2 linked regions of the Homo sapiens genome follow. The protein of the gene in region 1 interacts with the protein of each later gene in a pairwise test. Each region holds a gene or a part of one and is shown on either strand. Other genes may lie near its edges.

The links.
Region 2: the proteins of KIF22 (region 1) and SVIL interact in a two-hybrid assay, tested with the Homo sapiens proteins (one study listed by BioGRID).

The regions. Positions count from the first base shown.
Region 1 is NC_000016.10:29,797,167-29,800,982, forward strand, and holds part of KIF22 (kinesin-like protein KIF22), read left to right. Parts: intron 1-1,207; coding exon 1,208-1,335; intron 1,336-1,426; coding exon 1,427-1,581; intron 1,582-1,808; coding exon 1,809-2,018; intron 2,019-2,097; coding exon 2,098-2,328; intron 2,329-2,461; coding exon 2,462-2,615; intron 2,616-2,746; coding exon 2,747-2,882; intron 2,883-3,007; coding exon of another isoform or gene 3,008-3,056; exon of another isoform or gene 3,057-3,636; intron 3,637-3,816. UniProt on the Homo sapiens protein: Kinesin family member that is involved in spindle formation and the movements of chromosomes during mitosis and meiosis. Binds to microtubules and to DNA. Plays a role in congression of laterally attached chromosomes in NDC80-depleted cells.
Region 2 is NC_000010.11:29,519,920-29,523,735, forward strand, and holds part of SVIL (supervillin), read right to left. Parts: coding exon 3,532-3,816; intron 2,717-3,531; coding exon 2,491-2,716; intron 1-2,490.

The sequences.
Region 1 (3,816 bases):
GGATCCTTGCTCCCTCCTTAGCACCGCTTTGTTCCCTGAGCCTTCACTGTTCACTTAGGAAATGTTGACAGGTGCCCCCATGATGGGCCCTCTCTGGGATACTGTAGGGAGAGATGAGAGGTTGAATCAAACATACATTACTGTGCACAGAGAGGGAGGAGCAATGAGGGTGAGCAGGTGAGCCCCAAGTAGAGGCTGGGGGACATATCAGGAGGGTTGGCGGAACACAGACCTGCCAGCCAGCCTACCCAAGCTGCAGCTGGGTAGTGTCAGAGAAGACCACCCAGATTTGGGGACAGAACTCAGAAGGGCAGCTACTTTATAATCCTACTGGGGATTTAAAGTTCAAACTCCTTGGCCTGTTTTTCTAGGCGGGGGCTGGCAAACCATGGCCTGCAGGTCAAATCTGATCAGGAGTAAGATTTTCAGTAAATAAAATTTTATCGTTTATTTACATATTGTCTATAGCTGCTTTCTGACTACAGTGGCAGAGTTGAGTAGTTGTAAAAGGAACACATGGCCCACAAAGCCTAAAATATGTACAATCTGCCTTTTTACAGAAGTTTGCTAGCTCCCATACTAGGCCGTTAACAATTTGGGCTTCAGTTTCTTTCCAGCCTCATTCCCTCAATATATATTAAACTCCCTGCTGTGGCCTAAGCTGCACTTCTCCACCAGAACGCAGTGGATAGGTGATTGGTATGTAGAGTCTAGTTCAGTCATAAGCAGCATCCTCTATTTTCCCCATTATGGTGTAAAATACAATGTTCTACACATGTAGCCATTTGAAAAAGACTGGGAAGCCTTGCTTTTTTGCTATTCTTGATTCTCAGAATTTCTTTCTTTGGTCAAAATCTTCCTTCCTTGAGCAGAATCAGTTACTCCTTTGAGAGTGTGTTCTTATCTTCGTTTCCTAAATCACAGCAAAGTGTGGATATCTATCCTACCAGACTGAAAAACTCCAAGAGCAGGGATATCAGATCTATCTCTGTATTCCTAACACCAATAGAGAGATGAGGATGGAGTAGGTGTTAGGTGGATGCTTTTTAAGGTCTTTGTACAAGAAAGGGGATAGAGACGTTCTCTTAAATCCAAGGTCCAGATGAGAGTAGAATCCCTTACCCACCCCCACCCCACTCCACCCCTTACACACACACACACACACACACACACACACACACGCTAATTTCTTTCTTTCTTCCTGCAGGTTTGATGCCTTCTATGGGGAGAGGAGTACTCAGCAGGACATCTATGCAGGTTCAGTGCAGCCCATCCTAAGGCACTTGCTGGAAGGGCAGAATGCCAGTGTGCTTGCCTATGGACCCACAGGAGCTGGTGAGGGAGCCAGAAAAGAAACAGCTATGGGTCAGAAAGGGCTGGGGAAACGGAGAGGAAAACCTCACAGTTTTCTCCACTCTCTTCCCAGGGAAGACGCACACAATGCTGGGCAGCCCAGAGCAACCTGGGGTGATCCCGCGGGCTCTCATGGACCTCCTGCAGCTCACAAGGGAGGAGGGTGCCGAGGGCCGGCCATGGGCCCTTTCTGTCACCATGTCTTACCTAGAGATCTACCAGGAGAAGGTGAGGCCCCGTGCTGGTTGGGAGAGGAGCAACAAAGGGTCAAAGTAAGACCTGGTTCTAGAACATGAAGCTCTGCTGTAGCAGGGAGGTAAGGTGAGACCTAGAAAGACAGAGACTGGGGTAGCAGATGGTACAACTCCGAGAATAGAACAGAGAAAGGAAACTGATCCCCAGGAAGAAACAGCCTCTCTATGGAGAATTGCCCTTCCCCTTCACTGCTTACACAGGTATTAGACCTCCTGGACCCTGCTTCGGGAGACCTGGTAATCCGAGAAGACTGCCGGGGGAATATCCTGATTCCGGGTCTCTCCCAGAAGCCCATCAGTAGCTTTGCTGATTTTGAGCGGCACTTCCTGCCAGCCAGTCGAAATCGGACTGTAGGAGCCACCCGGCTCAACCAGCGCTCCTCCCGCAGTCATGCTGTGCTCCTGGTCAAGGTGAGGCCGCAGACAGGGGCGAGGACCTGGGAAGCCCAGGAGCCTGAGCTAAGCACGAGACCTTTGTTCTTACCCCCAGGTGGACCAGCGGGAACGTTTGGCCCCATTTCGCCAGCGAGAGGGAAAACTCTACCTGATTGACTTGGCTGGGTCAGAGGACAACCGGCGCACAGGCAACAAGGGCCTTCGGCTAAAAGAGAGTGGAGCCATCAACACCTCCCTGTTTGTCCTGGGCAAAGTGGTAGATGCGCTGAATCAGGGCCTCCCTCGTGTACCTTATCGGGACAGCAAGCTCACTCGCCTATTGCAGGTCAGGCCCACCTGTCTCAGGGAAGAAGGGGCTGCAGAAGGAGGTTCTCAGGCCTGCTGTGGGGTGGGGAATAGCAGTTGAGGCATAGGAAGGCTGGGCTTCTGACCCACCCACTGCCTGGTCTCACCCTCAGGACTCTCTGGGTGGCTCAGCCCACAGTATCCTTATTGCCAACATTGCCCCTGAGAGACGCTTCTACCTAGACACAGTCTCCGCACTCAACTTTGCTGCCAGGTCCAAGGAGGTGATCAATCGGCCTTTTACCAATGAGAGCCTGCAGCCTCATGGTGAGAACTGGGGGAGGCAGGAGTGGAAACGCTGGGTCTGGAAATTAGGGAGTTTGTTGAAACCACCAAGCATCAGCACAGAGGCTGACCACCCCCAATCCCTCTCTCCACCCCATCCTCCAATCATCTAGCCTTGGGACCTGTTAAGCTGTCTCAGAAAGAATTGCTTGGTCCACCAGAGGCAAAGAGAGCCCGAGGCCCTGAGGAAGAGGAGATCGGGAGCCCTGAGCCCATGGCAGCTCCAGCCTCTGCCTCCCAGAAACTCAGGTGAGCAGTGGGGCCTTGGGTGTATCCCCTTCCTGATGTATGGCTTAGCAGCAGAGCTGCAATGCCCGTCAGATCCTTGAGCAGAGAGCTGTGATCTTGTTCCTCTCCCATTAAATTCACCCTAGGCCGGATGCGGTGGCTCACTCCTGTAACCCCAGCACTTTGGGAGACTGAGGTTGGGTGGATCACCTGAGGTCAGGAGTTCGAGACCAGCCTGGCCAACATGGTGAAACCTCATCTCTACTAAAAAATACAAAAAGTAGCCGGATGTGGTGGCATGTGCCTGTAATCCCAGCTACTTGGGAGGCTGAGGCAGGAGAATCCCTTGAACCCAGGAAGCAGAGGTTGCAGTGAGCTGAGATTGTGGCCATTGCACTCCAGCCTGGGCGACACAGCAAGACTCCGTCTCAAAGTAAATAAGTGAATTCAACCCTGGCTAGGCACGGTGGCTCACGCCTGTAATCCCAGCACTTTGGGAGGCCAAGACGGGTGGATCACCTGAGGTCAGGAGTTCAAGACCAGCCTGGCCAACATGGTGAAACCCCATCTCTACTAAAAATACAAAAATTAGCCAGGCATGGTAGTGGGCACCTGTAATCCCAGCTACTCAGGAGGCTGAGGCAGGAAGAATTGCTTGAATCTGGGAGGTGAAAGTTGCAGTGAGCCAAGATCATGCCACTGCACTCCAGCCTAGGTGACAGAGCAAGACTGCATCTCAATAAATAAATAAGTAAATAAATAAATTCCCCCCAAATTCTACTCCATTGAATCACTAAAGTCTAAGATTAATCTCTCCTCAGTGCTGCTGCCTTGGGGACCTAAGGAGGCCTCCTCCTGGGGATCCTTTCCATTTTCCAACCCCTTTAGCCTTCAGCAAAACTTCTCACTTTGGGACAGCTGTTTCAAGGATGAGCATTTTTGCTTCTGGTTCAAG
Region 2 (3,816 bases), on another chromosome or scaffold:
ATCCTTGAACGCCTTACATGTCCACAAAGCCCAAGCTAAGAAGCTACGTCTTTCCAGTATCTCACTTTTAAAAATGAGAATTTTACAGTAGGATTAAAGCTTTCAGAAAAATACAGGTCAACTAAAATTTACCAAAAAACAGGTAAGTAAATCAGGAATTATTGCTTAGTGGATAGACACAGGACTTCTTCATCAAAAGTCCTAAGTCCAGATGGACAGAATATTCCCAAAGATGGGAAGGCTCCTTTAAAAGCCTTTGAAAGAAGGGGGCATAATATTAGTATTTCCCACTGGGGAATACCCCAGGGATATTTTCTCATGTGTAAAACATCAGAACTTGTGTATAAGTGATATTTATTGTTAATTTCCTTAAATGATCTCTCTTCTTCCTCACCTAACCAGTTGTCAATATTTGGGTTTCTGGGATGAAACTCTCTTTGAGCCCCATTTTCGTGGAAGAGAACTTCAAGCCTCAATAGGCCCAACTGCTTCCCCGATTGAAGACATCCCTCTCCTCATTGCACTGTCCCCTCTGCCCCTTCCCTATGCCCCTCAGCCTGCCAGGTCTAACTTATCATGAATTTTAAGTAAGTAAAGGAGAAAGTAAGTCAGATTTAACAATGTGATTAATTTGTCAGTTGAAAAAGATAGCATCTATTATTTTACAAATAATGTTCAAGAAGCTTGGCTTAAAACTAGAAAGAAGGGCCAGGTGTGGTGGTGCATGTCTGTAATCCCCGCACTTTGGAAGGCTGAGGTGGGAGGACTGTTTGAGGCCAGGAGTTCGAGACCAGCCTGGGCAACATGGTGAGACCTCCCAACTCTACAAAAAATCTTTTTGAAAAAATTAGCCAGGCATGGTGGTACGTGTCTGCAGTCCCAGCTACTGGGGAGGCCGAGGCAGGAGGATCACTTGTGTCCAGGAGTTCGAGGCTGCAGTGAAGCTGTGACAGCACCATTGCACTCTAGTCTGGGCAACAGAGGAAGACCATTCCTCTAAAAAAAAAAAAAAAGAAAGAAGGGGCCAGGCACGGTGGCTCACGCCTGTAATCCCAGCACTTTGGGAGGCCGAGGCAGGCGGATCAGGAGGTCAGGAGATCGAGATCATCCTAGCTAACACGGTGAAGCCCCAACTCTACTAAAAATACAAAAAATTAGCTGGGTGTGGTGGTGTGCGTCTGTAGTCCCAGCCACTTGGGAGGCTGAGGCAGGAGAATCGCTTGAACCCGGGAGGCAGAGGTTGCAGTAAGCCAAGATCATCCCATTGCACTCCAGCCTGGGTGACAAAGCAAGACTTAGTCTCAAAAAGAAAAAAAAAAAAAAAAGGAAAGAAGGAAAAGAAAGAAAGAAGACTTTTCATTGTGGTTTAGTATAGTCTTAGGCAGTTTGAAATGTATCTAGAAAAATAAGAGTGGTCAGTGAAGCCTGCAGACTTCCGTGTGGTGGGAGGTGCTGAGGAAGGGTGGAGGTTGGCAGAACTGTGGGAACAGGCGATGGAAATGGTTCTCCTAATATGGAGTTGACAAGATTTTTCTTCACCCAGTTTTCCTATCAACTATTCCATCATGTTTTTTTCCTACTGAATACTTTCTCCTTTTTTTGTACAAATTTATGTGGTGCATGAGAAATTTTGTTACACATATAAAATGCATAGTGATCAAGCCTCTATTTAGAATGTCCATCACCTCAGTACAATACGTTTTTATTTAGTCACCCTACTCTGCTATCAAACTCTGAATTTATTCCCACTATTGCATCTTTTGCTGCTTAATTCATCTGTGGTTAAGGGTTAACAAGGAAAACACATCCCCAAGGTAATTTACTTCCAGTTCTCTGTATCTGTCTAATTTAAATATATTCCTCTGCACCCTACGTCATTCTTTTGAAAGAAATTAGGCTACTGTGTTATTTGATGCTGAAATGCAATCTTTCAAGCTATTACCTGACATACAATTTCTAAATGCAGTTCAGAAAAGTCATCCATTTTACAATCTGTAAAAGAAACAAAACTTGGATTCTAAGTCCAAAGATATATGCCCTCTATGTAAATTTATCTTCACTCCCTCTACACATATTTTACACAAAGTCACAAGTGGTTTGTGCATTCAGTATGAACCCTGTGTATCTAAAAGGGGAAGAGCCAAGATTTCAGCTCCTGTCATTAGATAGTCCAAGAATTTAATATTATAAAAGATATTGGGACAGTGGAAACAAATAAATAAAACAGAAGTCTGTTTCTGTTTGTTTTCTCATCTGAGTCTGGAACCAGCCCTGTCCAAACCAGGCTCATTACCAAACCAGGCTCATGAGCAAAGGCAGTTCACTCTCAAACACCTCAGCTTCCTAGAATTACTCCAGGACAACAGCACAGTCCTGTTAGAAGCTGAATGTATGATTTCATCTCTTTGCCCATCACCGAGATTGTTTTCTAAAAGCAAGCTGTAAGCTCCTCCCCGAGAGAATTACTTTTCGCTCACCGAATCTCATTACCTTTCTTTAATAGACATGGTTTTGCTGGGTGAGTCAAGAAGGCCCTCCCCTGTCGGCGTTTTGATCTCTCCAGCAGCAAACATCGCACATGGATTCTTGCAGAGCTTCTCCTGTGGCTGTTCCGAAGAATCCTGGGGCTTCCAGGACACGGGGGCTGTGGTTTGAGCAATAGTTTTCCCAGCAGCTGTCCCCGTCTGCTCGGAAGTGGGCTCCCCGAACTCTGCCGCTGGGAAGGAAAAGAGCAACATCAGCACTGAACTCCTCAGGCAAACATTCTTCCAGCGATTCGCCCTCAACAGTGCAGCTCTCAGGGTTCAATCCGTGGGCACACGGCGGGTGACCCAATCCACTGGGATTTATGCAAATCTGCAGCACGCTACACTCTGTGAGAAAACCAAACTTCCTGGAGGGTTACCCACACAGCAAAATGCTTCGTGGCAATTGGTTTCTCTCCTGTGTGCGAGACACAGGAAGTCAGCTTTAACTATTTACTCCAGAATGGTTCTATTCTCCAAAATAATACCTTAACATTCAAATGTGCTATACTCACAAACGCAAACCCCTATTATAACTTACACTGTACTGTTTCATACAAACGTAGAAAGAGGATGAAGGGCCCACGCAGTGTAGCTTGCTAGCCTGCAAAACAGGCATGCAGGAAGAAGCACTCTAGCGATTCAGAGACTGGGGTCAAGTCTTTCCTGAATTCCTTGTGCTTACCCAGCCTGGACCTTTGGGGTCATCAATTTCTAAAAGGGGCCACCAGAACTAAGCAGCTCAGAAGGCCATTGTGTGAGTGACCAAAGTCAACAGAAACTCCATGAAGATGTGTGAAAGCTCTTCCAGTAGTTTTATTGCTGAAAACTTGATGTATCCTCTAGTCAGATCCAGGGAAGAATAGGATTCCCGCTGAACTTTTAACCAATACTAGCTGTAAACTGCCTATAGAACTTTGTTAAAAGCCATCATAGACACAGGACAAATCAAGCAGAAACTAAAACCCAGTGGCTTTCTAAAGCTTTAGGGGCACTGGTCACTTACCTCTTAGTGAAAACTTCCTTTTCATAACATTCTCCACCTCCACCTTCTCTTCAAAGGGCAGCCTGTCCCTCAAGTCCAAGTTTCCTTGTGCATTCATTTTAGCCATGGAAAATTCCTTCGGTTCATCCCCGAGGTGGGTGATGGGAGGGTTCGCCCGTTCCAGGCTTCCTCTTCTGGGAACAGCATATTTAGATTCCTTATGGCTGTCTCCTTCCCTGGCTCGGTTCAGGATGGGGTAGGATGCTTCTGCTTCCTCAAAGGACCCATACTTCTCCATCCCACTGT